7 linked regions of the Homo sapiens genome follow. The protein of the gene in region 5 purifies or fractionates together with the protein of the main gene of each other region. This does not show direct contact. Each region holds a gene or a part of one and is shown on either strand. Other genes may lie near its edges. The genes, in order: CNNM1, TMEM120B, SLC12A6, KCNJ8, GPR21, GJA1 and SLC12A7.

Evidence for each region.
Region 1: the proteins of GPR21 (region 5) and CNNM1 purify together in Homo sapiens (affinity purification with mass spectrometry; 2 studies listed by BioGRID and IntAct, with this or other methods). This does not show direct contact.
Region 2: the proteins of GPR21 (region 5) and TMEM120B purify together in Homo sapiens (affinity purification with mass spectrometry; 2 studies listed by BioGRID and IntAct, with this or other methods). This does not show direct contact.
Region 3: the proteins of GPR21 (region 5) and SLC12A6 purify together in Homo sapiens (affinity purification with mass spectrometry; 2 studies listed by BioGRID and IntAct, with this or other methods). This does not show direct contact.
Region 4: the proteins of GPR21 (region 5) and KCNJ8 purify together in Homo sapiens (affinity purification with mass spectrometry; 2 studies listed by BioGRID and IntAct, with this or other methods). This does not show direct contact.
Region 6: the proteins of GPR21 (region 5) and GJA1 purify together in Homo sapiens (affinity purification with mass spectrometry; 2 studies listed by BioGRID and IntAct, with this or other methods). This does not show direct contact.
Region 7: the proteins of GPR21 (region 5) and SLC12A7 purify together in Homo sapiens (affinity purification with mass spectrometry; 2 studies listed by BioGRID and IntAct, with this or other methods). This does not show direct contact.

Annotation. Positions count from the first base shown.
Region 1 is NC_000010.11:99,335,544-99,339,964, reverse strand, and holds part of CNNM1 (metal transporter CNNM1), read right to left. Parts: intron 1-4,421. UniProt on the Homo sapiens protein: Probable metal transporter.
Region 2 is NC_000012.12:121,774,331-121,778,751, forward strand, and holds part of TMEM120B (transmembrane protein 120B), read left to right. Parts: intron 1-327; coding exon 328-392; intron 393-731; coding exon 732-800; intron 801-1,278; coding exon 1,279-1,392; 3' UTR 1,393-4,421. UniProt on the Homo sapiens protein: Necessary for efficient adipogenesis. Does not show ion channel activity.
Region 3 is NC_000015.10:34,327,446-34,331,866, forward strand, and holds part of SLC12A6 (solute carrier family 12 member 6), read right to left. Parts: intron 1-4,421.
Region 4 is NC_000012.12:21,764,121-21,768,541, forward strand, and holds the end of KCNJ8 (ATP-sensitive inward rectifier potassium channel 8), read right to left. Parts: intron 2,504-4,421; coding exon 1,603-2,503; 3' UTR 835-1,602; downstream 1-834. UniProt on the Homo sapiens protein: Inward rectifier potassium channels are characterized by a greater tendency to allow potassium to flow into the cell rather than out of it.
Region 5 is NC_000009.12:123,032,098-123,036,796, forward strand, and holds GPR21 (probable G-protein coupled receptor 21), read left to right. Parts: upstream 1-1,569; 5' UTR 1,570-1,645; intron 1,646-2,073; 5' UTR 2,074-2,469; coding exon 2,470-3,519; 3' UTR 3,520-3,568; downstream 3,569-4,699. UniProt on the Homo sapiens protein: Orphan receptor.
Region 6 is NC_000006.12:121,434,331-121,438,445, reverse strand, and holds the start of GJA1 (gap junction alpha-1 protein), read right to left. Parts: upstream 2,801-4,115; 5' UTR 2,614-2,800; intron 1-2,613. UniProt on the Homo sapiens protein: Gap junction protein that acts as a regulator of bladder capacity. A gap junction consists of a cluster of closely packed pairs of transmembrane channels, the connexons, through which materials of low MW diffuse from one cell to a neighboring cell.
Region 7 is NC_000005.10:1,073,762-1,078,182, forward strand, and holds part of SLC12A7 (solute carrier family 12 member 7), read right to left. Parts: intron 4,247-4,421; coding exon 4,072-4,246; intron 3,052-4,071; coding exon 2,933-3,051; intron 2,476-2,932; coding exon 2,377-2,475; intron 1,730-2,376; coding exon 1,610-1,729; intron 911-1,609; coding exon 806-910; intron 41-805; coding exon 1-40. UniProt on the Homo sapiens protein: Mediates electroneutral potassium-chloride cotransport when activated by cell swelling. May mediate K(+) uptake into Deiters' cells in the cochlea and contribute to K(+) recycling in the inner ear.

The sequences.
Region 1 (4,421 bases), on a different chromosome or scaffold from region 5:
TGAAATGTAACTGTGAATGAAAAAATTTATTTTCTTTTATGGAAGACAAAGAATATAGCACTAATGTTTTGGCAGGTATAGAATTAAGCAATGGAATGGTTATTCTTCCTGCAAAAATAGCTACGGTCAGCATTTGGAGTGTAAAGTAAACCACTGGCATTTTGGACTAGATTATTCTGCAGTGAAAAGGTCACATTGTGTGTCTGGGCCAGGAACACTTACTGGCTGGTTGGAATACTTTAGGCCAGAGGTCCCCAACCTTTCTGGCACCAGGGACAGCTTTTGTGGAAGATGATTTTTCCATGAACTAGGGTGGGAGGGGGCATGGTTTGGGGATGGAACTGTTCCACCTCAGATCATCAGGCATTAGATTCTCACAAGGAGCACGCAACCTAGATTCCTTGCATATGCAGTTCACAATAGGGTTCTCGCTCCTAATGCCCCAGCTGATCTGACAGGAGGTGGGGCTCAGACAGTAATGCTTGCCCACTGCTCACCTTCCACTGTGTGGCCCAGTTCCTACCAGGCCACAAACTGGTACCATTCTGCAGTCTGGGGGTTAGGGACCCCTGCTTTGGGCAACAGACCACTTGCAGGAAGACCAAAGATGGAAGAGGATATTTTTAGCTCCATAATGTCTGCCTAGCTCACCACTGTATTCCCAGAGTCTAGTGTAATGCCTGGCCCAAAGCAGGAATTCAAAAAATGTTTACTGAATGAATCAATGAATAAGCAAAGACTGAGTATGGATTGTGCAGTAGGCTGTGTTACAGCCATGCTAGTGTACAGGTGGAGCAGCCTAGCATACGTGGGTTGTGCTTTTTTGTTTGCAAAGATGGTGTTACTAGCCCAGCAAAGCTGAATTGTTTAATTGAGTTAAATGTCAGTCAGTGCTGTATTACTCAGAAGCTTTGACTTCAGAACAAAGCTTTATTCCTTTCCCCTGTTGTCTATACAGAACTCAGTGTCTCCTAAAAGCAATCCAATAATAGAGTAGTAAATTTAAGAAGTATGATAAATCTCTACGGCTCCATTTTTAAAATTAGTCTTCCCAAATTATAGCACTCAACCCTGAGGAAACTATAGCAAAAATACCACCCTATAAGAAAATCACTCTTAAGATTAGAATGGGACATTTGATTTGTGCTTGATGGCAGGACAATGGGCTTTTCCTTTTGTTTTCTTTTTAAGAATTTCATTAAGATTGTTATTATGTGCAATATATTTTTAATATGACAAAATATTGAGTTACTATTTCAGGATAGTGGGATGATTATCCTCATATGATTTTCATACTTCTTTTTTCTACTATTCTATATTTAAATTTTTTTCTGTATAAATTATAGAAACATAAACTTCAGTAAAAAATTTATAAAAGCAAAATATGACTGGGTGCAATGGCTCACACCTGTAATCCTAGCACTTTGGGAGGCCGAGGTTGGCGGATTGCCTGAGCTCAGGAGTTCGAGACCACCCCGGGCAACACGGTGAAACCTCGTCTCTACTAAAATACAAAAATTTAGCCGGGCATGGTGGCACATGCCTGTAGTCCCAGCTACTTGGGAGGCTGAGGCAGGAGAATCGCTTGAACCTGGGAGGCGAGATCACACCACTGCACTCCAGCCTGGGCGACAAAGTGAGACTCCATCTCAAAAAAAAAAAAAAAAAATGCCACCTAGTCATAGTTATTGTATCCTCCATGTTCCCATTGCATTTTTGCATTTCTAGTATAGCACTTTCATTTTAATGCTTTATGTACCAAGGTCTGTCTTACCCATATCCTGTACTTATATACTGAGACATGACTTGTAAATTCAAGGTCACTGGAAGTCATGGGAAAGGTGAGTGTCCAGCTTGCCTTCTAGCTTTGCAAAGGGAAGTGCTATTCATCCACTATGCTTTAGGCTCTTTGGGAACAGAGATTTTATCTCATACCCCTAACTCTTAGCACAGTGCTTTACATGTGAAAAGAAATTGTTGTAATAAATATTAATAGATGTACCTAAAGAAGCTGAGAAACAATAGATGCAACACTTTTCTTCTAACACTAACAAACTTATAAGTTTGATTTGTTCTGCTGCATAGTCCAAAATGATTTAATTCATTTTCTAGTGCTCTGCAGATCTCTTCCATTATATTAAAGTTTAACTCCTTAAGTCATCCATTCAGTCCTTAAACAAACATTCATTGAAAATTTACTATGTGTCATATGCATCGTTAGCTGCTGGAGCTACAAAGACAGATAAGACAGTTTTGCCCTGGAGATGCTCATTATATGGGTGGGAGGCACTTATAAACAAACACTGGTAGTACAGCTTGTTAGTTCAATGATTGAGATATGCACATAAAACAATGAAGCTGGCCAAAAAATCTATTTTTGTATTTTGGGGTTTACAGGAGAAGTCTCCCAGAGGAGGAGGCCCCTGAGCTGAGTGTCAAAGAGCTGGCAATGAATTAGTCAGGCAAAGCATATTCCTGACAGAAGTGCAATGTGAATAAAGGGACAAAGGCAAGAATAGCACAGTGCACCACAGAGTTCAGCATTGCTGGAGGGTAAAGCTGTGGCAGGGAGTGGTGAGCGATGAGGCTGGAGGGGAGGGCAAGAAGCAGGTCATGAGTGCATTGCTGGCTGCCTTACCAGCTTAGCCTCTCTCCCGTAGGCAGCGGGGAGCTGCTGAAGGGTTTTAAGCAGTGACATTACTGGAGATTATTTTAGTGGCACTAGAGAGAACGAATTTGAGGGAGACAAAAATGTGAAAAAGTGTAACTTCTTAGGAGGCATTTGCATAAATGAGTAATAGACTTGTGTTTATATTTAATAATCATAGCTAACATCTACTTAGTACTTACATGACAGGTAGTAAGTAAGCATAATGCGATAGTCTTAATATTTCACACAATCTTATGAGTAAATATTAGTATTATTTTCATTTTACAGCTAATGAAACAGACATAAACAGTTAAGTAATTTGCCCAGGGCCAGTATCAACCCAGGCATTCTAGTAAGTCTTATGTTCTTTTTTTGAGACAGGGTCTCATTCTGTTGCCACTGGAGTTCAGTGGCATGATCTTGGCTTACTGCAACCTCCCTGCCTCAGCCTCCTGAGTAACTGGAATTACAGGTGTGCACCATTACTGCCCGGCTAATTTTTGTATTTTTAGTAGAGACGGGGTTTCACTGTGTTGGCCAGGCTGGTCTCTAACTCCTGACCTCAAATGATCCACCTGTCTCGGCCTCCCAAAGTGCTCGGATTACAGGAGTGAGCTACCACGCCTGGCCAAATCTTATGTTCTTAATCACTATCCTGTTCGTTTAATTTCTGTTTCCTGTATTAGAGTGAAGCTCTATAGAGACAAGGACTATGTTGATGATGTTCTCCACTGTGCCAACACAACTATTTGTTGAATAAAATCAGTGAATAACCTAAGTGGAACAAATAGTGGATTAAATTATGTACAGATTTAAGAAATCGTCATGCACTGCTTAACTATGGAGACACTCTCTGAGAAATTCATTGCTAGGCAATTTCATGATTGTGTGAACATCATAGAATGTAGTCACACAAAACCTAGAGGATATAGTGTACTACACACATAGGCTATATGTTATAATCTATTGCTCCTAGGCTACAAACCTGTAGAGCATGTTACTGTGCCAAATACTGTAGGTAATTGTAACACAATGGTAAGTATTTGCGTATCTAAACATAGTAAAGGTAATGTGTTGCCTTAGGACGATGTTAGGTGTTATGACTGCTAGGACATCACTAGGTGACAGGAATTTTCCAGCTCCAATGTAATCTTATGGGATCACCATCATACATGCAGTCCATCATTGACCAAAATGACATGACTGCAGTTGGATGCAATATTGGCATCCAATTATTTGGCCAGCTTTGGTGATTGTTATGGACTGAATGTTTGTCTTCCCACAAAATTCATATGTTGAAGCCCTAACGACACCCAGAGAGGCCTCTAAGGAAGTATAGTAGTTAAGATTAAATGATGGCATAAGGGTGGGCCCTAATCCAACAGGATTGATGTCTTTCTAAGAAGAGAGGACCAGAGCCTCTTGCTGTCTGTGGACAGGCACTGAGGAAAGGCCATGGAGAGAAGGCACCCACATGCAAGCCAGGAAGAACGTCCTCACCAGAAACTGAGTTGGCCAAAACCTTGATCTTGGATGTCAAAGCCTTGAATTGCGAGAAAATAAATTTCTGTTGTTTAGGTCACCAGTCTATGCTATTTTCTAATGACAGCCTGTGCAGACGACAATGATTAATAGGATGAGGTGAATGCAAAGGAAAGCTTTCTAGTCTGGGAGACTAAAGGGACAAGTGGTGCCACTTACTGGGGACAGAGGCCCATGAAGAGGAAGAGGAGAGATTTGCTGGGATCAAGGAACAACATTAATTATTCCG
Region 2 (4,421 bases), on a different chromosome or scaffold from region 5:
TAGAACTAATGCATGTGAAAATTCATTATAAAATGCAAAACCCTGTGCAGATTAAAGAAATTAGTAACAACATAGCGCCCAGTGTCTGTGTGTTGTCACCTGGCTCTTGGTGGCTTGAAGAGAGAGAGCAGTCAGGCCAGGTGACAGGGTTGCTATTGTCATAGTGAATGCCCACCCAGCTATGACAGGTGAGGGCTGACCCCCCGCATGTGTGACTGTCCCTGGCTCATCTTAGGGTGACTGGTGTGGCTGGGGGTGGGCGTCTGGTGGAGCTGTGGGGGCAGCGGACCCCCTCAGCGGGTCCTTTTTCTTCCCTCCTCTCCACAGAAGGGTTCCAGTCCTGGATGTGGCGGGGCCTCACCTTTCTCCTGCCCTTCCTCTTCTGTGGCCATGTGAGTCCCCCTGGAGTTTGTGGGTATCTCCTGTCTGGGCTGACCCCCAGGAACAGAAGGTCTTCAGGCCTTGCCCTCCTTCTCCATCCGTCCCCATGCTGGGGCCCACAGCATCCTGGGGCCGGGGCAGCCTCTGGGCCCAGGGATGCCAAGGCAGGAGCCAGAACTGACCTAGCTCTGCCCTGGCCTCGGGTGCCTGCATTTCATTTTGGGGGTGTCTGTCAGTGTTGTGGGTAGTTGATACCCAAAGTTGGGTGAGGGGCCTGGCCATCACCCTGGCTTTCTACGTGGCCGGCCAGGGGAGTCTGGTGGGTGAGCAGCGCCTGCCTTCCTCTCCAGTTCTGGCAGCTCTACAATGCCGTCACGCTGTTTGAGCTCTCCAGCCACGAGGAATGCAGAGAATGGCAGGTATGGGGGGTGGGGGCATGCTCGGGGGAGGTTCCCGGGAGGGCTGGGGTGGCAGGGATGGGGTGTATGTGTGGCATGCTGGGGTGCGGATTCCTGGGGAGGGCTGGGATGGCAGATGTGGGGGTGGGGTGTGTGCGTGTGTGTGGTGTGCTGTGGGGAGGTTCCTGGGGCGGGCTGGGCTGGCAGGTGTGGGGTGTTGTGGGGGGCCTGCTTGGCGGGAGGCTTCTGGAAGGGCTAGGGGTGGAGCCTCTCCCAATCTGTGGATCCCAAGGAGGTTCGCCCCATCGAGCCCTTCCCAGGCCCTGCCCAAGCCTGAGGCCTCACCCTTCCCCCAGGTCTCCTGAATCTCTGCCTTCGATGGCAAAACCCTGCAGTTTGGGAGTTTGGGGGCAGCTGTGCTGGAGATTCTGGGGTGCTGGGGGCAGGGGTTCAGCAGGGCAGATGCCCCAGCCTCGCCCTCCTCTCTGGACTCCCCCAGGTGTTCGTACTGGCGTTCACCTTCCTCATCCTCTTCCTCGGCAACTTCCTGACCACGCTCAAAGTCGTGCATGCCAAGCTCCAGAAGAACAGAGGCAAGACAAAGCAGCCGTGAGCCTCGGGCTCCTGTGCCCTCGGCCCGGACTTCAGACTGCAGGGGGCTCCCGGGCTCCTTCCCAGCAGCCCTCTCAGGCCCGTGGCATCGCTGGGAGAGGGCCCAGGCCCTGGTCCCCCAGTGGACCCCAGTGGTCTAGAGGAATGTGAGCCCCGCCTGTCCGCACAGTGTCCGCCCACCTATTTATGACATATTTAATGCTGGGTCCCCCATCGTCCCTGGAACCCGAGGCCTCACTCCTGTGCTTGAAGGTGGCTGAGGCCGGGCCAGTCTTCCTGGGGATGGGGCCTGAAGCCTCAGGGAGCCCCTCTGTTCCCACTCCTGTCATTTGAACCCCTCTGGGTGGGGTTTGGATGTGCCTCGCGGGGTTGGATTTATGCTGACCTGCTACTTACCAGGCCCAGGCTGGGGTGGTGTGAACCCTCAGTGTCCTGTGGCGCCCCCACCCCGGGGCCACTCTGCTTCTGCTGTGAGCCCCCTCCTCGCCCACCCCGCCACGTGGTGAGGGTTATTTTAAGTTCTCAGAGACCCACCGCGTCTGCCTCGTGCTCTTCTTGCCCCTGGAGCGCTGGGGGCATCCTGAGTCAGGCTGTGAGAAGATTCGCCACCAGAGGGCGCCCCGGGCCCTGGGTCGTCCAAGGGGACAAGGACGTTCCCGTCTGTGCTTCGGGGTTCCCTGACCCCCCCATCCTGCAGCCCACCTTCCTGCAGTGTCGTGGCAGGTACTTGGAGAGTGGGACCAAGACCCTTGGCCCCTGTGGAGGGGAACCACCTCCCCCCTCCTTCCCAGAGCTTCTGGATGTTGTGGGAGGGAGGTGGGGGTGCCTGGCAGGCTCACCCCCAGGGGCCGCACCCTGAGGCGGGGTCAGAGCCACTGGGCATCGCTTGGGTGAGATTCTGCATTCGACGGGAGGCAGAGAGGCCACCAGGTTTGGCTGAGTGCTCTGCCCCACCATTCATATATGGGCCTCAGCTCCCCCTAACTGTGGCCCTACAAATCCCTAGGCCAGACCTCACAGCAGTGCCCACAGGCATGCCTTGTTTAGCCCTCCTCAAGGAATTTTAAAATTTTTAATTACTTTTTTTTTTTTTGAGACAGGGTCTGTTGCCTAGGCGGGAGTGCAGTGGCATCATAGGTCACTGTAGCCTCCGCCTCCAGGGCTCAAGGGATCCTCCCACCTCAGCCTCTGGAGTAGCTGGGACCACAATCACACACCACCATGCCCTGCTCCTTTTTTTTTTTTTTTTTTGAGATGGGAGTCTCGATCTGTTACCCAGGCTGGAGTGCAGTGACACAATCTCAGCTCACTGCAACCTCTGCCTCCCAGGTTCAAGTGATTCTCCTGCCTCAGCCTCCCGAGTAACTGGGACTACAGGCGCGTGCCACCATGCCTGGCTTTTGTTTTGTTTTGTTTTGTTTTGTATTTTTAGTAGAGACAGGGTTTCACCATGTTTGCCAGGATAGTCTCGATCTCTTGACCTTGTGATCTGCCTGCCTCAGCCTCCCAAAGTGCTGGGATTACAGGTGTGAGCCACCATGCCTGGTCACCCTGCTACTTTTTAATACTTTTTAGTAGAGATGGGGTCTCACTATGTTGCCCAGGCTGGTCTCCAACTCATGGGCTCAACTCATCCTCCTATCTTGGCCTCCCAAAGCGCTGGGATTACAGGTGTGAGCCACTGTGCCTGGCCTGATTACATTTTTAAAATGAGATTTCCCCACCCCTACAGTGAGATTCCACATAAAAATCCAGATTTCTGCTTTCCCTAGAAAAACGGACCTGGCAACATTCCCGTGGCACAGGACGCCTACTCTCCAGTTGCCACAGGCCCTGCCACCCCCCTGCCCTTCATTCTGGTCTCCTTTCTGGTCCTTTTTAGGCACCTGCGTTTGCCCTAGATTAGGAGTCAGCTAGCTGTCTGTAAAGGGCCAGATGGCAACTATTTTGAGCTTTATGGGCCAGGTGGTTTGTGGCAGCTACTCTTCACCTGCAGCCCCAGAGCACAAGGCAATGCAGAAAGGAATGGGTGTTGCTGTGTTCCAATAAAACTTTATTTACAAATCAGGCTGTGGCCAGATGTGGCCCACAGGCTGTAGTTGTTGGACCTCTACCGTAGACCATCATGAGGCCTGGGGTTCTTCGAGAACAAGAACTCCTTGGTTGATTCCCCAGGGTACGGCAGGGCCTTGGGAACCTGGGTGGGTTGGGGAGGGTCTCAGAAGGCTCCTTCCTTTGGCAACCTGACTTCTTGGAAGCTCAGGTTTAGCTGACGCCCCAGCACTGGGCCAGGGGGGCTGAGGCAGGAGATATGGGGAAGGCTAGGAGTTGCCTGAAGCCATTATCCCATCTTAGGCGACACCGACTCCTAGGCGCCCTCCAGAGCCAAGCAGCTTGCGACTTCTGGTAGGCACCGGAATCCCCTGGGATGCTTGTTTTAAAAGTCCTGGGCCGGGCACGGTGGCTCACGCCTGTAATCCCAGCACTTTGGGAGGCTAAGGCGGGTGGATCACGAGGTCAGGAGTTCAAGACCAGCCTGGCCAACATGGTGAAACCCTGTCTCTACTAAAAATACAAAAATTAGCCGGACGTGGTGGTGTGCGCATGTAGTCCCAGCTACTCAGGAGGCTGAGGCAAGAGAATCGCTTGAACCCAGGAGGTGGAGCTTGCAGTGAGCCAAGATCATGCCACTGCACTCTAGCCTGAGTGACAGAATGAGACTCTGTCCCAAAAAAAAAAAAAAAAAAAAATTCCCAGACCCTCGGCCCCAGACCTTCCCAAAGGAGGCTCAGGGATTAGGTATCTGGCTGTTGGTGACACAGGTGGTCTATGAACCAGTTCTGAGAAACTGTCCCGCGTGGACAGGGGGTAGATCCCATCAGTTCTCAAAGGAGGCCAGGATGTCTCGCCTCCTGAACTCCACAGGCTGGTAGAAGCGGGGCTTGAGGGACAGCAGGTTGGGAGCTTGAGGACTAAGTGGGCCAGTCCTGTCCTACCACAGTGGGGGGAACAGTCCACAGAAAACTTGCT
Region 3 (4,421 bases), on a different chromosome or scaffold from region 5:
CATGAGGTCAAGAGTTCGAGACCTAAACATGGTAAAACCCCGTCTCTACTAAAAATACAAAAATCAACCGGGCATGGTGGCATGCGCCTGTAATCCCAGCTACTCAGGAGGCTGAGGGAGGAGAACTGCTTGAACCTGTGAGGCGGAGGCTGCAGTGAGCCGAGACCGCATCACTGCACTACAGCCTGGGCAATAGAGCAAGACTCTGTCTCAAAAAAAAAAAAAATTAGATATGGTAAATGCAAATGCTCTCAAAATAGAATAAAAGTAAATTTTGGTTAGATTCAATTTCTCATAGCTCCTCAAAGTGAAAACGTGGATGTGTACATAAGAGTTTTTAACTTATTAGTGTTCTCTCTTCTCTCTTTTTTTAAACTAGCAATATGAAAAATAAATAGCTTTACCCCAAAGTAAATGTAGACCTGTCTGGTAAAATGAGAGAAATTCAGGTGCTACTTTGCCAAAAATTAAAGTTATTTACCAAATGGTTATGACTATAAACAGGTGAATGTCATCAATTGAGTTTTTTGCTCAAGGCCACGACAAATATAATGAGGATTAGCAATGCCGTAATAAAACTACAAACAAAAAGCTGCCATTGGTTAAATTAGCTAGAAAACTGGAGACTGAAACCCAGCTCTGAGCTAAGATAACAGGAAATTTTAAAAAGAAAAAAAAAAAGACTAAAATTAGAAGACCTGTCATTTCCTAACAATGTGGCTTTTGTTTTCTATTTCTACAGTTTTCAACTACAAAAACTGAAATTTTAAGAAGAAAAAAACTTCAGCCGTTACATTTTTTTCAGTTAAGACATCCAAAGGTAACTTCAAAACTTCAGGTTTCGCAAAGCCCCTCAGACTGACTTATTTACAATACTGACTTGATTCTGAAATCTTGTTAAGTATAAATTCCACTTTAACAGTAGCTTAAAAATTCTTCAAAAGTAAGACGCACCTGAATATCAGAAATGTTAAAATATGGTAATGTACACACCTTAGAGCTGAGCAAATATGGTGATAGTGTTTCCTACTCATCAGGTACTGAACTACCATTAAGGCAAGGTGCTGTATGCATGTGTATATGTTGTATGTTCTGCAGTTTTGTGCTTGTACCTTCAAATGTAATTGTTGAGATTCTTAAAAGTATACCAGGGCCAGGTGCGGTGGGTCACACCTGTAATCCTAGCACTTTGGGAGGCCGAGATGGGCAGATCGCTTGAGCTCAGGAGTTCGAGACCAACCTGAGCAACATGGCAAAACCCCATCTCTACCAAAAGCCAATACAAAAGTTAGCTGGGCATGGTGGTGCATGCCTGTAGTCCCAGCTACTCAGGAGGCTGAGGTGGGAAGATGGCTTGAGCCCAGGAGTTCAAGACTGCAGTGTACTACAGTTGTGCCTCTGAATAGCCACTGCCTACCCAAGTCCAGCCTGGGTAACAGAGCTAGACCCTGTCTCAAAAAATAAAAACATATATACACTGAAGCACTAATTACAGGGTTTTAACAGAGAATAGCTTCTTGTTTTTCCACATACTTGTAAAACTTATAAAACTTCATTAAAAGAATACATTGTTTTAACATTCAAATGCTCACATAATTCCTACACTATAGCTCTCCAAACTTTCATACCTACTCCTCAGAAACACACATCACCAAAAACTTAAACTCATGTAACTTCATTATTCTGAAACAACAAGCTCACCAGCTACAGCTGTGTAGACAGTGCACGAGGGCATTAAGCCAGAAGGGCAAGGGGAAGAGGGTTGAAATCCAGCTTGCCCTTCTCCAGTGAAGTCATGATGGCTCAGGGCACAAAGGAGTGCCTTTTTAGAATTTGCACAAAGTTCTTAGTAGTCCAGAAGTATATGTTAGACACGAAGGGCAAAAGAAGCAGCAGCCATAATTCAAAAGCTTACAGCATTATAAGTTGCCTTAAACATCAGCATTAGAAACATTCCCCTTCTTCTAACAGCTTTAAAATGGGAAAGCATAACTTTCATAAGGTTCCCAGGTTTGCAGGAGTACCTTCTTTCATTTCCTTCCATTCCAGTAAAGGTAATATCAAAATTTATGAGAATCTGGAATCTAGAAACATGCCACTGAGAACAAAAGAATTTGGGCTCATGATGGAAAGACTTAGTGAGGACACAGAAGAGACCACCGAAGATCAAAGACAAGAAGTTGAGGTAATCACTGTATTGATCACTGATATTTAATCAAATATCTACAGCATTCTAGGACACACTCAAAAGAAAATCCTTTAATTGTAATTTAACCTTTTTAAAAATTGGCCAGGCATGGTGGCTCATGCCTGCAATCCTAGCACTTTGAGAGACCCAAGTGAGAGGATCACTTGAGCTCAGGAGTTCCCAGACATCTTCAAAGATAAAAGCTAAGAAATAGTAAAATGTACCTTTTACTCTACTTCAACAAATTATAAACATTTGCTAATCTTGTTTTGTCTATCTCTCCCCAACTTTTTTGGGGAGGAGTGGGGAGGAAGGAGCTGGAGTACATTTCATTTAACCTGTAAATACTTCAATATATATCTTTATAGATAACAGCTTTACATTATCACAATGTCATAAACATCTATAAGAAAATTAACAATTCCTTAATATTAATATCATGTACATGTTCAAATTTCCCCCACTCGTCTCAAAAGTATCTTTTTTCAATTGTTTTATGCACATCAGAATCCAAACCAAGTTCACACACTGCATTTGGCTGATACGGCTCTTTTTATCTGTAACAGCTTTCCCTCTCTTCCCATCACTCCTCCTCCACCCCATCCCAATTATTTGTTGAAGAATCTAGTTATCCAATAAAACTTCCCATATTCTGGATTTGGCTGATTGCTTCTTGTGGTATAAAGCAGTATATTATAAAGTTTAATCTGGCTACAGAGTATAGAGAAGAGAGGAAAAACAGTTAAGGTATATAACCAGCTGGGCGCGGTGGCTCACGCCTGTAATCCTAGCACTTTGGGAGGCTGAGGTGGGCTAACTGCTTGAATGCAGGAGTTCGAGACCAGCCTGGGCAACATGGTAAAACCTTGTCTCTACAAAAAAAAAATTAGCTGGTCATAGTGGTGTGCACCTGTGTTCCCATCTACTCAAGAGGCTGAGGTGGAGGACTGCTTGAGCTCAGAAAGTTGAGGCTGCAGTGAGCCGTGATCACACCACTGTATCCAGCCTGGTTGACAGAATGAGACCCTGTCTCAAAAAAAAAACAAAAACAAAAACAAAAAAAACAAAACTATCAAGAGGATGCTTCTTTCAGACAAGCTAAGAAGGTACCAAATCAACATATTTTAGCTATTAGAATGCTGAGGTAAAACATGGATAGTATTCAATAATTATATAATATAGAAGACTTATTTAAGAGAAAGGTAATAGTCCATCCTGGCCAACATAGTGAAACCCTATCTCCACTAAAAATACAAAAATTAGCTGGGTGTAGTGGCACGTGCCTGTAGTCCCAGCTACTGGGGAGGCTGAGGCAGAAGAATCACTTGAACCCAGGAGGCGGAGGTTGCAATGAGTGGAGACCGCACCATTGCACTCCAGCCTGGGCGACAGAGTGAGACTCTGTCTCAAAAAATAATAATAACAATAATAATAATAAGTAATAGTCACCTATGATTAGCAAAACAATATAATTCACTTATTTTGGTGTGTGACTAAAAATGATAATTTTGTTTTTTGTTAGGTTTTGTTTGTCAGGGTAGAGGTATTTATTTATTTGAGACAGAGTCTCGCTCTGTCATCCAGGCTGCAGTGCAACTTCCGCCTCCCAGGTTCTCATGCCTCAGCCACCTGAGTAGCTGAGATTATAAGCATGCACCGCAACACCTGGCTAAGTTTTCATATTTTTAGTAGAGACGGGGTTTCACCATGTTGGCCAGGCTGGTCTCGAACGCCTGGCCTCAAGTGATCCGCCCGCCTTGGCCTCCCAAAGTGCTGAGATTACAGGCGTGAGCCACCGCGCCCAGCCTAGAGGCATTTTTTGAAAAGCTCTCTAGATCATTCATTATGCAGCCAGATGAAGTAGCACTACTCTCGTACATACATTAATATGCCTTTATCAGAGTACGTTTTTAATTTGTCTCTTGTTTTTAAGTCTACAAGATCTTCAACTCAATGTATATTTATGGTGTACAAGTTATATGTGATATCACATATTACACTAGGTGTAAATGATTTTGTATCCTTGTCCTCAAGAACCCTACAGCATAGTTGAGAAAGATAATATGTAAATAAAAACAAAATATAGTGATATAGGTATTATAGCAATATAGGGACAAAAAGAGCCTGGTTTATTATATCTGGATATGGGGTTCAATCAGAAAAGGTTTCAGAGAGGACATGACTCCTTAAAGAAAGGACTTATCTAAATTACTTTTATGTCTCTAACATCTCT
Region 4 (4,421 bases), on a different chromosome or scaffold from region 5:
AGAATGACTTCCAGGTCATGGCTTGATGCCTGAGTGATTGGAAGAAAGACTGGGAGGAGGGCAGCTTTTGTGAGTGAGAATGAAGTATTTGGTTTTAGACCTAGTAAGTTTGAAATGCTTGTTCAATCTCCAAGTGGAGCCTCAGGTGCCTGTTTGATCTGTGAGTCTGGAGTTCAGAGGAACAGTTAGAACCCTTTCAGGAATGATTAACTCAATGACGTGATAAACAGTTTCTGTTCACCTGGTTGGAATCATGAGTCTTAAGATAGAACATTTCATAATTACCTATTTCAATGTTCATAAATACAAACCCCCAAATCTGTGTGAAAGATTTCACAATAGCTCAGCTTTCTGATGTTTAGCTATAAAATGTAAGAATAAAAGCATATATAGTTTATTAACCTAGTACTTCTCTCTCCTGTCTCATCCCTTCCTTGAAGAAGCAGGCACTAAATATGCTTAAATGAAGCTTTGATAGAAAATCTCACTTTAGCAAATGAGATGATGCTAAATCTATAAATGCCAAGCCTAAATTCAGATACTACTGGGAAGGAAGTATAGTTTTAAGATGGGAGATTGAAGATTAAAAAAAAAAGCTTATAGGATTTTTATGGTATGTCAGGCTTAGATTGAAAAACCAAGAGGACATTTTAAAACCTGAAATAAAATCAAAACAAAGCAAAAAAAAGCTAGTTTTGGAGCAAACAGACTTGAGAGAGAGGAATCTCAGAGTGAGTGTTATCACTTTGACATCTCTTTTACATGGCTCTAAAAACATCTTGAGTTTTAACTTGGGATGATTTTGTGAAAGAGGAATCACAAAACTACAGTGAGTACAAAGAAAATGTTTTAATAAAATATTCAATACAGTATTTCCCTGTGGGGATTCTAGAAGAAGAAGTGAGATGCTGAAGGAAGTGACTGTCACTGTGGGGAACCCAGTCCTAAATGAGACAAGACTTAGCTTTCCTTCAAAGACACCTTGTCCAGCTCTGCCCAACAGGCCGCAATGAGATGGACCAGGAAACCTTCAGGAGTCACCGACAGACAAAGCGAATGAACTGAATCCACTTACAAACAGATCCACTTAAGCAGTTTTTGCCTCAGGCTTCCTACCAAATGCAGTTATCATGGAGACAGGAGAAGGCTGATGTACAAAACGCATTAACATGATTTTGTTTTTTCCCCTCCTATTCTATTTGCATTTCCAGAGTGATCATTAGTAACACAGCGATCTGGGTTTCACCAACTAAGCATTTCAAACAGACTCATTTCTTGACCAAATTTTGTGCTCAAGGCCTGTTACTATTAGTGTAATTCTTGTGTTTCAAATTGAGAGAAACGAGCATACCCACCCCTGCACATAACTTAAGTATATCACTGCGAATTCTACATGTATGAAACAAGCATAAGCCATGAATCCTCCACTTGGTGTGTTACTTTTTATTACTACAGAAAGTGCTGTTGCTTGAATATGAATATCATTTAGTGTAATAAAATGTAGAAGGACACATTATTGTGTTCCAGCTCTGGTTCAGTCTGGCAGTGCCCAGCATAAACCGTCAAAACTTGATAAAAGACTGTCTTGGGGTTATCTTGCTGTCATGATTCCGATGTGTTTTGATTTCCTTCTGGAGTCATAAATTGCACCTTTGGTACCATGAGGGAAGAATTGTTCCTTCGGATAGAATTGTTCCTCCTCATGGAATTGTTTCTTCTCATGGAGTTGCGCTTCCTCAGAGAATTTTGATGAGACAGTTCACTCTTTTGGAGGGTCTGAATAAGGATGGAAGGTTTCTCATCCAGCTCTCGGGCACTGCACCGTGGAGCAGCTACTTTAACAGTGTTGCCAAATTTGGAGTAATCCACAGAATACACTCCTTCTTCCTCAGTCACAATGGACACAAAGCGGTGGCCCCATTGGATCTCCTCAGCAATGTAGGAGGTTCGTGCTTGTGTGGTGATGCCAGTAGTTTCAACCACTCCTTCCAGAATAACTATGACCTCCAAGTCTTGGTTGGCCAGGTCAGTTGCTGAGATGTCATACAGGGGACTGCGCTTGTCAATCACGTGGCAGATGATCAAAGGGGCCACCAGAAAAATGTTATTGCTCTCGATTGGGTTATCAACAGGAATGTCCAGTTGGTGAATAGGAACCACCTCCCCTTCAGGTGTAGTTGTTTTCTTGACCACCTGGATGCGCACAGAGGCACTAATGATCATGCTTTTCCTCAGGTCACCCACTCGGAACATGAAGCACAGCTTGCCATTTCGGACGGCAATCACAGCATGGCGGCTGAAAATCAAAGTTTCTGCCCTTCTGTGAGCCTGAGCTGTTTTCATGAAAATGCAGCCTAACATGACTGCATTGATGATCAAACCCACAATATTCTGGAGAATCAAAACCGTGATGGCCAAAGGGCATTCCTCTGTCATCATCCTCCCTCCAAACCCAATGGTAACTTGAACTTCAATGGAGAAGAGAAAAGCAGAAGTGAAAGACCTGTGAGGAATGATATCAGAAAAGAACACCATCAGGTCACATTTTGAATAATGAAATATGCCAAGCTGAGCTTTTCATTTTCTTCCACCAAAGACTATTAAATGCTTGCAGAAAGACTAGCCAACTTAAACTTGTAAAATGCCTAATTCTAAACTGTGTTTAGAACAGTCTCTCTCTCTCTTGCATGCATCTACCTCCAGACTTCTGGAGATTAACATTCTATTAATTAAGTTCCCTTAAGCTAAGGCCTAATTCTATTAACATTCTATTAATGTTTCATAGGTCACATAGTGATGGGCCTAATTTGTGTAAAAGATTAATATATTTTCATATATATGCATATTTTACCTTGCGAAATACTTCACTTTCACAAAGGCACAGTTTACTTTGTAAAACTTTCTACCAGGTAGATGTTTATTATTTATTGCGTATCTATGTTTAGGAGACTTGAGTCATATGGAAGGTACTGAGTACTGAGTGAATTTATTATTTATAATCTTTAAAATCATATTCATTAGCTAATACTTATTTTGTGTCTCATATAGAAATAGCACAGTGCTAAAAAAACTAGTATAAAACACATTATTCCAAACAACTAGTATTTTTAATAGAAGGGAGTTGTTTTCCATTTGGAAAGAAAAGTGTCTTATTGATGATCTAATTTTGTTAAGTCAGGGGTCCCCAACCCCCCCCCCCCCCACCTCCAGGCCAGGGACCAGTGCTGGTCCATGGCTTGTCAGGAACTAGGCCACACAGCAGGAGGTGAGTAGTGGGTAAGCCAGCATTACCGCCAGAGCTCTGCCTCCAGTCAGGTTAGTGGAGGCACTGGATTCTCATGGTATAGTGAACCTTATTGTGAATTGCACATGTGGGAGATATAGGTTATCCCTCCTTATGAGAATCTAATGCCTCATGATCTGAGGTGGGACAGTTTTATCCCCACACCATCCCCATCCCCCACCCCCATCAGTGGAAAAATTGGCGTTCCGCAAAACCAGTCCCTGGCTCCAAAAAGGTTGGGGAGCACTACTCTAGGTGTTCTGGAGAATACTGAAATGATTAAAGGGAGAACTAGGGGCAGAAACTAGTAAATGACTGTGTCAAGGTCACATACAGATATGCCTTATTTTATTCTTCTCTGCTGTAATGTATTTTGCAGATACTGCATTTTTATAAATTGAAGGTCTGTGGCAACCTTCATCCAGCCAGTCTATTATCACAATTTTTTCAAAACGTGCTCACTTTGTGTCTGTGTGTCACATTTTGGTAATTCTCACAAAATTTCAAACTTTTTCATTATTATTACATCAGTTACCATGATGTGTGATTAGTGATATTTGATGTCATTATTGTAATTGTTTAGGGCAGCAGTCCCCAGCCTTTTTGGCAACAGGGACTGGTTTTGTAGAAGACAATACTGGGGGGTGTGTGTGGGGGGAAATGGTTTCGAGATGAAACTGTTCCACCTCAGATCATCAGGAATTAGATTCTTACAAGGAGCCCGCAGCCTAGATCCCTCACCTTCGCAGTTCACCGTAGGGTTCACACTCCTATGAGAATCTAATGCCCCCACTGATGTGACAGGAGGCAGAGCTCAGGAGGTAATGTTTGCTCCCCCACTGCTCACCTCCTGCTATGTGGCCTGGTTTCTAACAGGCCACAGACTAGTACTGGTCTGCAGCCCAAGGATTGGGAACCCCTAGTTTGGGGCACCATGAGCCATGCCCATATAAGATGGCAAACAATCGATAAATGTGTGTGTTCTGAGTCCTCCACTGACCAGCTGTTCCCTTGTTTCTTCCCCTTTCATCAGGATTTCCTATTCCCTGAGACACAGCACTATTGAAATTAGGTCAGTTAATAGCCCTACAAAGAACACTAAGTGTTCGAGTAAAGGAAATATTCGCTGTCTCTCACT
Region 5 (4,699 bases):
GAGCCCAGCCTTAAGCATTTCAACATGATGGGCAGGAAAACACTGGCTCTTAAGGAAGGCTACTTTAGTTGTAGGAGCAGAAAGTGAGTAAAGTTATATACCCCCTCTGTGCTAGGTGTTGGTAAGCCTTTTTTATATACTTTATTTCTCAACAACCCTGTGAAGTAAGGAGTGTTGTTCTCATTTTACAGATGATGAAACAGAGGCTTAAGAGAGGATAAGTAATATTAGAGCAAGAATTTGAACCTGATTATTGTTCCTTCGATGCTATTGGTCTTTTTACTGTGCCACACACTTCGCTCTGTTTCCCAATAAGACCTGTCAAATATTACTATCAGGATTACGGTTAAATAGGTTTTTTATTTTGGGGCTATGGCCGCGTCTGGGACTGGCCAGACAACTGCTGCTGCTTCAGATTTAAAATGTAATTCATCGCATTCTGATTATGGGTGGCCATTTGTCTGTAATTAGAAAGCATGTGTATAAAATGAATAAAAATGAAAGTTGGATCACATGTTTTTACTCAGTTGCCTACCTCTTGGAATGCTTTCAAATGCCGGCATTTGTTTATTGTCTTTTATTCTGCTGGATACTTTCAATTAATCCTTCTAAATAAAGATACTAAAATTACACATTTTCATAGCACCCAACTCTGTTAGCTGAAAATTGTCATCATTTATGACATTACCAGGAAAACCACAATATAATATGATACAGTTTGCATTGTTTTAAATAGGCAGAAGCAAGATTGTATATTCTAAGATACAAAGGCTTATTTGTACCATGAAACTTCCTGTAATATCCATGCCTGAGTAGAAGAAGGTACATTTACTTTTCTATCTTCTGTTTGTATTCTTGTTTACTGCTCAGCAAATTAGAAGCAAGAAATGCATCTCAAAATTATAGCGTAGTGTCAAATATGGGAACAGTGTAATTTATCTGTGCTATTTGTGTAGTATTCAGAATGGGAGATACTTTATTTTTCTCTTGAAAAAGTGATCTTAAAGTTTCTTGGCCAATATTCAGTGAATCATGAGAGACAAAATTAATGGTGAATAGCCTTCTAGCTAGAACTTCTTGTGCAGCTGAATTATGATTCTCAGTTGCCATACGCCATACACTTAAAGGAAGTTAACATACTTCCTTTCTTTAATATTGCTCTTTGTTCTTTGGGAAAATGCCGTGAGAAAATAGAAATTACCCCTCTGGTAGTGTGTTTCAGTCTAATTCCTGACACCCTGTTCTGTTACTACCCCTTCTCCTTGCTAGCACCCTGAATTCTGCTTATCTACTAAAAGGGGGATTCCAGACAGACGAGGAAACAGCCTTCAAATGGTGCACTGCAGGCATAGCAAGCCATTCCCACACTGTGCAGTCTGGAAATCGGGGCACCTCTCTGACGATGAATTCCAATTAGTTGCTAAAGATGCCAGAGTGTGTGCACGTACAGGCTTTTTCTTTCCCCTCCCCCTTTCTTCCTTTTCCCAAGCCCCCTCTTCTCCCTGTTTCCCCTCCTACTCCTTTATCTCCTCCCTCCGTGTCTTAGTTCTGCAGTACGCGGGTTGAAGCACATTCCTGCTTTGCAAGGCTTTCTGCTAAGGATGTATTGTGGCTTTTGTTTGGATTGCAGCATGCAGAATTACAGGTAACATTCTGAAATTGAACTAAACAGTAAATTCTGTTGAAATGTTTTCAAAGAGGCAAAATATTATATTGGAATCAATGAAGAAAGTAAATTATCTTGGCTAATTTTATTAGTGGTAATTGTAGTGAAAGGTTTTCCTAAATATTATAAGCAAATTCCTTTTCTCCCCCGTCTCAAATGAAAGGAAATGGGGGTAAATTAATCTGACTGTGATTGGTTTTGTTTTATGCTGATCTTGAAAGCTTGATGTTGCTGCTGCTCCTCTATACAGTACAGATCAGTTGTGTGGGGTGCTATTGAGGGTAGCCGTGAATAGTGGTGCCAGTAGGGGTGGAGCGGGAGGGATGATGCCAGCCTGAGCTAGCCAGGTTCTTTGATTAGGGCATTGGATGTGAAATGTAAAATGCTCTCTCCTTTTCTTCTATCAGCTGTTCAGAGGAGACTCATTACAACTCCTGCTGAAGCTCCTAATCTTCTTCCCTTCTCTTCTACCCTTTCCCCCTACCCTCACTTGGCCTGAAGACGTTCTCCCCAGAGTTTACCTTGCTCCCCTGGTGCTATGTGTATGGTGAACCTGGCACTATGGCCGCGTCTGGGACTGGCCAGACAACTGCTGCTGGCTCTCCTTATTCCAGGAAGGATTTAAAGGGGAATTGCACTGCAGGCAATGCACCAGAGCAGCAGCATCAGGAGCTTGGGGAGTAAGGCTCCTCTGGCATTATTACACACATGCAAAGCTGACCGCAATGACAGCAGCTGCTTCTTTGAACTGTTGGCAGCAGCCAAGCGGCAGCATGAAGTGACAGATCACTCCTGAGCTCAAGATGAACTCCACCTTGGATGGTAATCAGAGCAGCCACCCTTTTTGCCTCTTGGCATTTGGCTATTTGGAAACTGTCAATTTTTGCCTTTTGGAAGTATTGATTATTGTCTTTCTAACTGTATTGATTATTTCTGGCAACATCATTGTGATTTTTGTATTTCACTGTGCACCTTTGTTGAACCATCACACTACAAGTTATTTTATCCAGACTATGGCATATGCTGACCTTTTTGTTGGGGTGAGCTGCGTGGTCCCTTCTTTATCACTCCTCCATCACCCCCTTCCAGTAGAGGAGTCCTTGACTTGCCAGATATTTGGTTTTGTAGTATCAGTTCTGAAGAGCGTCTCCATGGCTTCTCTGGCCTGTATCAGCATTGATAGATACATTGCCATTACTAAACCTTTAACCTATAATACTCTGGTTACACCCTGGAGACTACGCCTGTGTATTTTCCTGATTTGGCTATACTCGACCCTGGTCTTCCTGCCTTCCTTTTTCCACTGGGGCAAACCTGGATATCATGGAGATGTGTTTCAGTGGTGTGCGGAGTCCTGGCACACCGACTCCTACTTCACCCTGTTCATCGTGATGATGTTATATGCCCCAGCAGCCCTTATTGTCTGCTTCACCTATTTCAACATCTTCCGCATCTGCCAACAGCACACAAAGGATATCAGCGAAAGGCAAGCCCGCTTCAGCAGCCAGAGTGGGGAGACTGGGGAAGTGCAGGCCTGTCCTGATAAGCGCTATGCCATGGTCCTGTTTCGAATCACTAGTGTATTTTACATCCTCTGGTTGCCATATATCATCTACTTCTTGTTGGAAAGCTCCACTGGCCACAGCAACCGCTTCGCATCCTTCTTGACCACCTGGCTTGCTATTAGTAACAGTTTCTGCAACTGTGTAATTTATAGTCTCTCCAACAGTGTATTCCAAAGAGGACTAAAGCGCCTCTCAGGGGCTATGTGTACTTCTTGTGCAAGTCAGACTACAGCCAACGACCCTTACACAGTTAGAAGCAAAGGCCCTCTTAATGGATGTCATATCTGAAGTGGCTCAGTTACGGGGTTCCCGTGTGTGTGTGTGTGTGTGTGTGTGTGTGTGTGTGTGTGTGTGTATTTTATCTCTAAGTATTCCTAATTCACTAGGAAATCTGGGACAGAATACTTTGACTCTAAACAATAGCATACAAATTATTCGTATGGATACCTTCTAAGTTTGTAGAAATGGTTTTCAAAAGTGCTTGTGAATTAGAAGACTCAAGATCATGAAGACAAATTGCTCTTGCTCTCAATTTTTGAAATGTCTTGGAAATGACTACAGTTCTCAGATTTAAAATGAATAAAGCCATATCTAACACCTCTTTCCAGCTGGCATGACTGAACCTGAGTGTGAAAAGCGTCAGCATTTTAAAAAGTCATCACTTTCTTGTCACTTTCTGGGCTCTTTCCAGCTATTTGGGCTTCATATGCAATTGATTTCTTCTAACGGAATAGTAAAATATAAATGAAAAGGTTTTAGAAATTACTTTTTATGTATGCCAAAGCATAACTACACTGCAAGTTTCAACACTGTCATTTAGAAAGCCAAATGTTCTGTGTTTTATTCTCTTGAGAGAATTCTCAGTAGGGTGAATAATGTGAACACATAAACATTAATTTTAGAATTTTACAGTGAACCATGAAGCAAAAGTGCAATCAAATTATACAATTTATGAAAAACTGAGCTACTTTTTGTGCCATGCTTCACAGAGATCTAAAGATATGTGTGCGTAGAAGTAATCGTGTAGTACTTTTGCCCATGCCTTTGTGTTATGTCTATATTTAGAATATCTGAATTGTTAGATTTCTCTTTTACAGCAAAATGTGCTTAAGCTAAAAAGTAATTCAGTGATAGGCTGTTGGCTGTCCATTTTATAATGGTGACTATATACAAAAATGTGTCTTTAATATTGTCTGTTCTTTCTATTCAAAGACTTCTGAAATATTAGAACATCAGGGAGAAGGGTGTCGGTCATAAGCAACTGAGTCAGAAAGTATACCGTAGTATACAGATTGTTTTTTTAAAATACAAGGTAGTTGAGACATTTTCTTTGTGGTTAAATGGAATCAACTAGTTATTTTTGAAAAGTATTCTTTCAGTTAGTGCTAAGGAATCCACATTTGAAGAGGAGAAGGGAAAACACTTAAGTCTCTTATTGCTATTTTCTCTCTGGAAAAAAAATCCTTTG
Region 6 (4,115 bases), on a different chromosome or scaffold from region 5:
TCTAAGTAACAAAGCAACCTTCAGTATCTGAAAGCACAGCCTTTTATCTGCCTCCTGCGGAGCATCTTTGCAACCATGTTTCCCAAGGAGGGTGACAGCATTGTTGGTATCACAGTCGCCAAGGGTGAGGAACTCAGTGGCTGGGTTGAGAACCCTCAGAAGGCATTAGAAAAATGTGGAACATGTTTAAACAGTGAAGAAAGTAGGAGCAAAGCACTAACACTGCATTTTCCCAGGTAACCAGTCTACCCTGACTTTGGGAAGTACAAAGCACCCCCACACTGGGGGAACAATGTTCTAATAATATAGAATCAACATCGCCAGGACGGAATGGAATGTACTGCCTTTGCTTGGTATAATTTCCAGTCAATTCGGCCTACCCAGAAGTAATTAGTCTTCTCCCAAAAGTGTTTTCTGTCTAACTGGCTTATTTCATTCCTGGCGCGGGGGGGAGGGGAGCGCTCGCTTAATGAAATCTCTGCATTACTAGACGCTTTAATTTCCAGTTATCCTTGCACAAAAGTAAACATTAGGCTTCCTCACAGGGACACTTTTCACCGAGTTCAAATGCGCCCGATTTTCGGAGGGCGATATTCAGTATCTTTCTTGTCGTTACTAACTGGGTCGAGGAAGCAAAAGAAATTCAACCGTCTTCCAAATAAAGCCACGCTTCTTTTTACAACATTGTGTAGCTCTCCCCTTCCCACCCCTACTTTGTACCTGGAGAGAAAGAGAAGCACGCCTTTTGGGAGCAAGGAGAGCTTATCGATGAGCGTTATCAGAAACCCCCAGCAAAGGCTGGCTGGGTCACTAAAGGGGCAGGGTGGGCGCAGCGCTGCTACGACCGTGAGGCGCGCGTCTCGGAAACAGGCTGACTTGCCCCGGACGCGTCATCAGCTTCCCGAGGGTCTCTCCTCCCTGCCCTTTCCCCTTGAGCCGCCCCGCCTCATTCTCGGGAAGTTTCAGGAACTTCCAGGGGAGTTGCAAGTGCAATTTAAGCACAATTCCCAAGGTATTCAGGTTTTCTTACCAACGCGGAGATAGTGGGATTCAGCAAGTTTAAGAGGAAAAAAGAAAAAGAAAAAAAAAAAGGGCTGGTGTGAGAGGGATGGGAAATTAGATTGACAACTTTAATTAAATCAACCATTTGTTCTACCATTTGGCACCCAGCCCATCTCTCCTCCTATCCCTCCCACCCCGCACCCCGGGTTCCTTTGCAGTGACGAACTCGGACCTGAGTTCGATTTGACTTGTGAGGATTTGGGGGAAACGTCCCAAGACCGAGCTGGTTCGGGCAGCGAAGGCGCGGGAAGGATCCCGGCAGACGCTAAGATGGCAGGAGGCGCCCCGCGCCCGTCCGGCCCACGGCCTCCGCAAAGCTTTCATTTTTATTTGCTTTTCAGCATTCACTGGTGCAAATACTTCCACTGCAGGGTCACGTCAAGAATCTAAACTAATTATTTTAGTTTGTAGATTTACACAGAACAGAAAATCTTTACCGGGCACAAAAATGCATGGCTGCATTTCTGATGAACAGAATGGGTGTTACCAATAAAAGTATTTTAAAAATTGAACCCTTTTAAACAACGCATTAGCGTTATCTTTGCCCTAGGAGCTCCAACTCCAAAGAACTGCCCCAGAGTTCTGAATTCTGTTACAGGTTCGAGCAGAGGGAAGGTGCGGGGCGGCGGGTGTTGGCGGGGGGAGCTCCCAAAGCGCTGTTTAAGAAAGTTTTTTTCCTGCTCTTTCTAGGAGCTCCCGTTTTAGGAGACGGTTTTGGAAAAGTACCCTGGCATACACTCTTTTTTAAACGTCTGATCTCTAATGCTCTGTAACTAGCCACCACCCATTCAAGAGATTTCATCTCCTAAACTGCCAACGTGGTCGAGTAAAAGCTGTCTCTCCTGAGGGTCTCAAATCTTTCCATAGCGGTTGCTAACACAAAGTAACAATTTACTGTTGATTTTTAAAGCATAATATTAATACTCTTGAATTTTATACCTTTTTGTTTAATGGGGAAAATTCTAGGAAGGAACCACGTGGAAGTCAAGTAACCACGATGTTTTAACAAAGCACTTCGTCACAAAAGAAGTTGGCTTTGCAAAGCTATAGAACATCAATCAAGATTTCCATATGAAAAAAGCACTTTATTCTATGAAGTGTAGAATACTATAGGAAGCACGCTAAGCAAATTTGCACTTTGATTTTTCCGATGTAGTCAGTCAAATCCCCCAACCCAGGCGCCTAACCGCCCCCCCCCCACCCAACAAATGATAGCACCTAGACTATTACTGATTACAAAAAAAAAACAAAATAAAATGATACTCTAAAATGAAAAACCAAACATCCAGTAAACTAATCCTTTATTCTAATCGGAAAGGTTTGAACCTTTTCACCTGTTGCAATGTTAATAGAAACTTTTTTAACAGTCAAAATATATATTTGGTACAATAAATTTTAACTTTAAAACTATAGAAACACTTTCAAATCCATCAATCCATTTACAGTATCATAATTCAAAATTACATTTAACACATTTTAAAACTTTAGAAAAGTTTTACTTGTAGAAAAAGAAACTAATAGGTAACGTGTTCTCATTTTTTAAAAACTTACTCTTTTGCTTAAAAGTAGTGAAGTCACGCCAAGTGATTGAACTCCTTGGAGGATGAAGTAAAATGAAAAGGCAAGTTCAGGCACTCAGACCTGTCTATTTAAAGTTTAAAACTCCGCTGCTGTTTGGTACTTTCCTCACGCCTTCCCCCTAATGAAAGAAAAGTGCTGATACCTCGTAAAAGCTTTTTTGTAACTTGGAGCACAGAGCTTTTAAAAGTTTCAAGCCACTGACTCAACTGGGAGGAGGGGCTAGAAGAAAGGGGAGGGCAAAGGGAAAGGCTGGGAGGAGGTAGGGAGGAGGCTGGTAAATGTGGAAGGGCTGGGGGGAGAAGAGGCAAAGAGCAGCAGTGGGATCAGGATAAAGTTGTAGTTTAAATTTGCTGATGAGGAAAAATAAAAAAGCATTAGGGACATGAACGCCTCTACTTGGAGTTGCTCCTCACACATAAGAATCATTGATTACACTGCTTGCTTCACCAGAAGACCAGGGATAATGGGGGAAAAAGGTGTATATTTTTATTACAACATTGTCTAAAATTTTTAAAGTAGCTTACAATAAATAAAAATGGTGGGGAAGCATATAACCAGTTCAAGCTTGTTTCACATTGACCAAGGTGTGTGAAGTTAGAGGTAGGTGTGAGTGACCTGTTTGATGATCTAATTCCCTTCCTTTAAATGTAAGCAAGGACAATTAACAAAGGGAATGGTGGAGATGGGAGAGAGATTTCAAAAATTGACATAGATGAAGAAAAGTCCATACCCAATCCATCTTTCAACCCCTTGACTGCTTTGAATTTTTACTTTCTTTCAGTTTAGCAAAAGGCTGTGTGTGTATATACATTTTTTACATATATAGCATGTTTTGTTTGCCTATGAAATCTTGATATCTGACCTCTACCATGTCTCCAGAAAACTAAGAATTTATATTAAGGCCCTATTTATGCCAAGACACTAAAACCCAAATCTGTAGTGAAATGTGAGGATTTTAAAAATACAGACTATGGTTGCATTAAGTAGGTTCCCAAACTATTCAGCCCTCCTTAAAATCAGTTCCCCCTCTCAAGCCCACTAGAGAGTTTTCTGCCCAACGACAGTAAAGCTGAGCATATCATCTTTATGTGCTTCCCTATCCCCTTCCAAATGCTCTCCCTCTTCAGGGCTCTGCATTAGGGTTTATAATGGCCTGAGTCATGTGGCCTCAATCTTAGAGCAGGCAGCTCCTCTGAGGGCTTCCCAAATGCCATAACACAGTGTTGTGGTAGGACAATTCCTCATAAACAGGCTTCAGTGATGCTCCTGAGGTTGGACAGGAAATTTCTTGGCCAGTATTCTCTGGAGGGAAAGCAAACTCATCTGGCCTTCCTATTCCTAACACTTTTCTCACTCAGGCAAATACCAGAAAAAAGAAGGATGCCAAATATATTCTGGTAGACACCGTTCCCTAATTAAACTTTCACTGAAATGACTAATATAACATCTTTTGAAATGTTGCAGGTTTTTTT
Region 7 (4,421 bases), on a different chromosome or scaffold from region 5:
CTGCTCCGCGTCCAGGTTCAGCATCACCAGCACCTGGGGCCTGCAGCCAGGGTGGGGCGGCTGTTACCACGGCAACGCTTACCAGGGCACGGCCCATCAACAGGCAGGGCAGATGGGACGGGCGGGGCACACGACACAGGTGGGACGGGAGATACATGACAGGCGGGACAGGGGACAAAAGGGGCAGGTGACAGATGGGATGGGGAAACGTGACACACGTGGGGTAAGTTGAACAGGTGACAGGTGAGACAGGCCACAGAAGCCAGGTGGGACAGGCAGGGCCGATGGACAGGTGGGCACTAGCCAGGCAGGACAGGAGAACAGGTAGGTTAGACAGGTGGGACAGGTGACATGCTAGACAGGTGAGACAATGGCCCAGGACACACACCTGAAGCCCCCACCGAGGCCCTGAGGGGACAATGGCCCGGGGCACACCCGAGGCCCCCGCCGAGGCCCCTGAGGGGACAATGGCCCGGGGCACACACCTGAGGCCCCCGCCGAGGCCCTGAGGGGCAGAGGCTTCCCAAAGATGGCCTTTGCTTCAGCAGGAGCCACCCTCTCCCACCCCAAGCCCAGGGCTGTGCTGGCAGAGGGGCCGGCTCCCCACACCCCCACCCTGCAGCAGGGACACCCCCGGCCCCCAGCTGCGCCATCCGCTCTGCACCAGGCAGTGTTCACACCCCAGACCTTGCCTGAGCGGCTGAAGGTGAGAGGCCCCTGAGACTCAAAGGTCCCCACTCAAAGGCCGACCTCAGAAACAGCTCTTCTGTGCGTCTGAGGACCACGGGGCATGGGCGGTGCTCACCTCCAGTTCTTGGTGTGGGGGGGACCGTGCTCCACGCGCAGCAGGGCGTAGCGGGCGGCGTTCAGGGATAGGCCACGGATGCCATCGCCCCACTCCTTCTCGGCCCTGTGGGAAAGGAAGTCGGGGTTTGTCCAGCCGCGTACCTGGAGGCTCCTCTCCCACCTGGGAAAGGGGACTTCTGGGGGCAGGTGAGTTGGGGCAAACAGGACCCCCAGGAAAAGTCCCTGGATGAGGAGGGAGGCCTCCATGCCCACCCTTGCCCTGAAGGGAGCCCGTCCTAGGAGCCACCGGGTCAGAGGGTGCTGTGGCTGTGGAGGGAACGAGGTCTACGTCCAGCATGCGTGAGGTGCCTTCCTCACAGGACGGGGGACAGGAGGCCCATGACAGGGAAGTGGCTGGACCCCGGGCACGAGGCGGGTGCAGGTGGAGGGAGGGTGGGTGCTGGGGCACGGGGAAGGACGCCTGTGGCTGCCGAGTGAGTACAGACACAACCTGGGGACACCTCGCGAGACACGTAGCAGGAATAGTCAGCCGTGGGCTCACCGCCTGCTGAGGACGGCACGAGACAGAGCTCCAGGCTGGAGACCCTGTCCACAAGTGCAGGCACCTCGGCCTGGCTGGAAGTGGGAGGGAAACCCCAGCTTTCACAACACAGCCCACCTGGACGTGCTCCCAGCTGCCCCTGTGAGGGCACACGACGCTCAAGCCCCAGGGAGGCCCCTCCAGGGAGCTGCCCCAGGCATAGCATGAGAGGGGCCCGCCCTCCCGTGCGCCGGGTCTGTAAGGGGGGCTGACAGCGCTTACCCGCGGTACTCGATGTACTTGTAGATGCAGCCAGCGATGAGCATGGCGGACAGCGCGTAGTACCAGGAGCAGATGAACATCAGCGCCAGGCACAGGCTCATACCCAGAAAGGACAGGGTCCTGGGGGCGGGGCAAGTGGCTCGGGGCGGCCCAACGCCATGCAGCCCCCACACCTCAGCCACCACCACACGGACACTGCCCCTCCCTCAGTAAAACTCTCTGTTAACACTAGGAAAACAGTCACTGACGCCTGACGACCATGGCTGTACTCAACCACCTCTGAGGGGTGACGTGGCTCCCTGGGCCCCTGTGGGAGCTGTCACTCCAAAACCCAGTACATAGCTCCAGCTCCCAGCGTGCACACAGCACCTCGGCTGTGCATGCAACAAGGGGCTGAAGCGTCCACCCAGCGCCTGATTCCTGGGGAGGGGAGTTAAGAAGACCCACAGCCCTGATGGGCTACGCCCCAAGCCTGGGAAGGCTGGGCTGACCACGGGAGGTACAAGGCACATGCAGACACCTGGGCATCCTCGTAACCAGAGGCCTTCCTCAGGTGCAGTCTCATCAGCTGCGCAGGGGCTTACTCCGCAAAGGAACAGTCAAGGACGCGCTGGGGTCTTCAGGCCCAGAGCAGCTGGCCTTGTAGAGGCACCCAGTGTCCCAGCCTGTGGGGCTCCTGACGCCTGTGCTGAGCGGCCTCACCAGTGGCAGAGGCACCCAGTGTCCCAGCCTGTGGGGCTCCTCACGCCCGTGCTGAGTGGCCTCACCAGTGGTAGAACTTGAAGCGTGGACGCCAGTTGGGGGTACGTAGCAGGGTCTGCACGGCGCAGGCCAGGTTCACGAACAGGTAGCACATGAGGAAGAACCTGCAGGGACGGCCGGCCACTGATACGGGCCCACTGGGCCCCCCTGAGCCCCCAGTCACTGCCACCTGGGAGACCACCCTTGTCACTGTCCCTCCCACCTGCGCCTTGTCTCCCCATGTCTGTCTCTGCACGTGAGCTGACTCAGACTGATTCCGAATCAGGCCCCCTCAGGTTCCAGCCATCCTGTGACCACCTGGTCCATCAAGAGATGGGCCATCGTCCCTTCCCCAGCAGCCGTCTGTCCAGCCACACTGTCCCTGGCTGACCCCAGCGGGCGGCTGCCTGGAGGCCTGTGTACTTGTCTTCCCCGGCGCAACTCCCTTCCCGGCAGGATCCTGACTGCCCACAGCTGGCCATGCCTGTCTACTGCTTGTCCTGAGCAGGACCTCCCATCCACACTGCCCCACGCTCCAGGCCCATACACCCATCCCCAGGTCCCCGTCCTGTGGGGGCTCACATGGAGAGGATCGGGGCCACGCTGTCCAGAGAGGCGATGAGGATGCCAGTCTCGCAGATGAGGACTGTCAGCAGCAGCGCCCACGTGGGCTCCCCGTTGGCCTTCCCGTGGCCAAACACCTGCAGGGAGAAGGGCAGGAAGATGGGGCAGATGACACCACCCTTTTAGGAGAGAAGCTGCAGGCTGGTCAGGTCTAGCCCAGATGAATCTTAAAGACACAGACCAGCAGAAACGCCTTTCACAGTAGGTCCCCGGGACATCACGCGGCTGGCCTGGGAAGAAGCCCTGACAAAGGGCTGCAGCCCAGGAGGCTTCAGAGCTGTGCCTACGCCCGGCTTGCCTGCAACCTGTGTGGCCCCAGCCTGCCCCCCCGCCTCAGTTTCCCCGACCACACAACACAGGACCAGCGTCTCCAGGGCACTCGCGGTTCCCCAGACCCTGTGGTGACCTTTCTCATCAGGCCACCCTCACCTCCCAGAAGCTGAGGCCCACGGGGCCTGTGTGCCTGTCCCCTTCCTGGACACCATGCCCTAGGCCCGGCTGGGACTGAAGATGCAACCACACAAAGGCCCTGCGGGTCGGCACCCTGCCGAGGGACCAGCGACGGGCAAGGATGGCTCTGCCATCCACGACCTTCCCACAGCTGCCCCTGGGCCCAGGTAGCAGGAGGAGCCACAATCGGCAGCTCTGGGCACAGCACACGGACAGGACCCATGCGGGCGTCCGTGCAATCCTCAGAGCAGCCACACACACTGGCTGCAGGTGGCTGGTGACGCCACCTCCCACGGGCTGAAGAGCTCAGCCACACAGAGAAAGATGTGGCAGGCAGGCAGAGGGCTTCTGACCAGACAACAGACCAGGCACCTCTGGACACGTGGCTGTGGGCCCTCACAGCCGCTCCTGACACACCCGGGGCCGAGCTCGGAGGGACCTGCAGGCAGGAGGGCTAGAATTGCCTCTGCCCACCACCCACCTCCCACCACTCCCATGCTCTGTGCAGTGGCCAGGGGCAGAATGACCACCATGGGGTCCAAGCCGCGGGCATGCGTCCCACACACGGCACTGTGAGGATCCCGCAGGGGAGGAGAGCCCCCGACCCTGACCTTCCAGGGTCCCCCCGACGAGGGTGCGGGACTCACCTGCAGGAAGGGGACGATGCCGTCACGGGCAATGGCCTGCAGTAGGCGCGGTGCCCCCGTGAGGCTCTGCAGGCCGGCACCGCAGGTGGAGAAGAAGGAGCCGATGACGATGACCCAGGGGGAGGGCCAGGCCAGCATGCCGATGACCAGGTTCCCCTGCAGGGCCTCCCCGAACCTGCAGGCAGGCGGGCAGGCGGGCGGGCGGCTTTCAGAAGTGAGCCTGAGTCAGACAAAATGTCTTCTCCCACCCAGAGCGAGGGGCCCAGTGCAGTGGGGGCGACTCCTTGGAAAGCTGAGGCCCGGCCTCCAGTCCCCGTTGGCTGAAACCTCCACCAGGCTCTGCCCAGCAT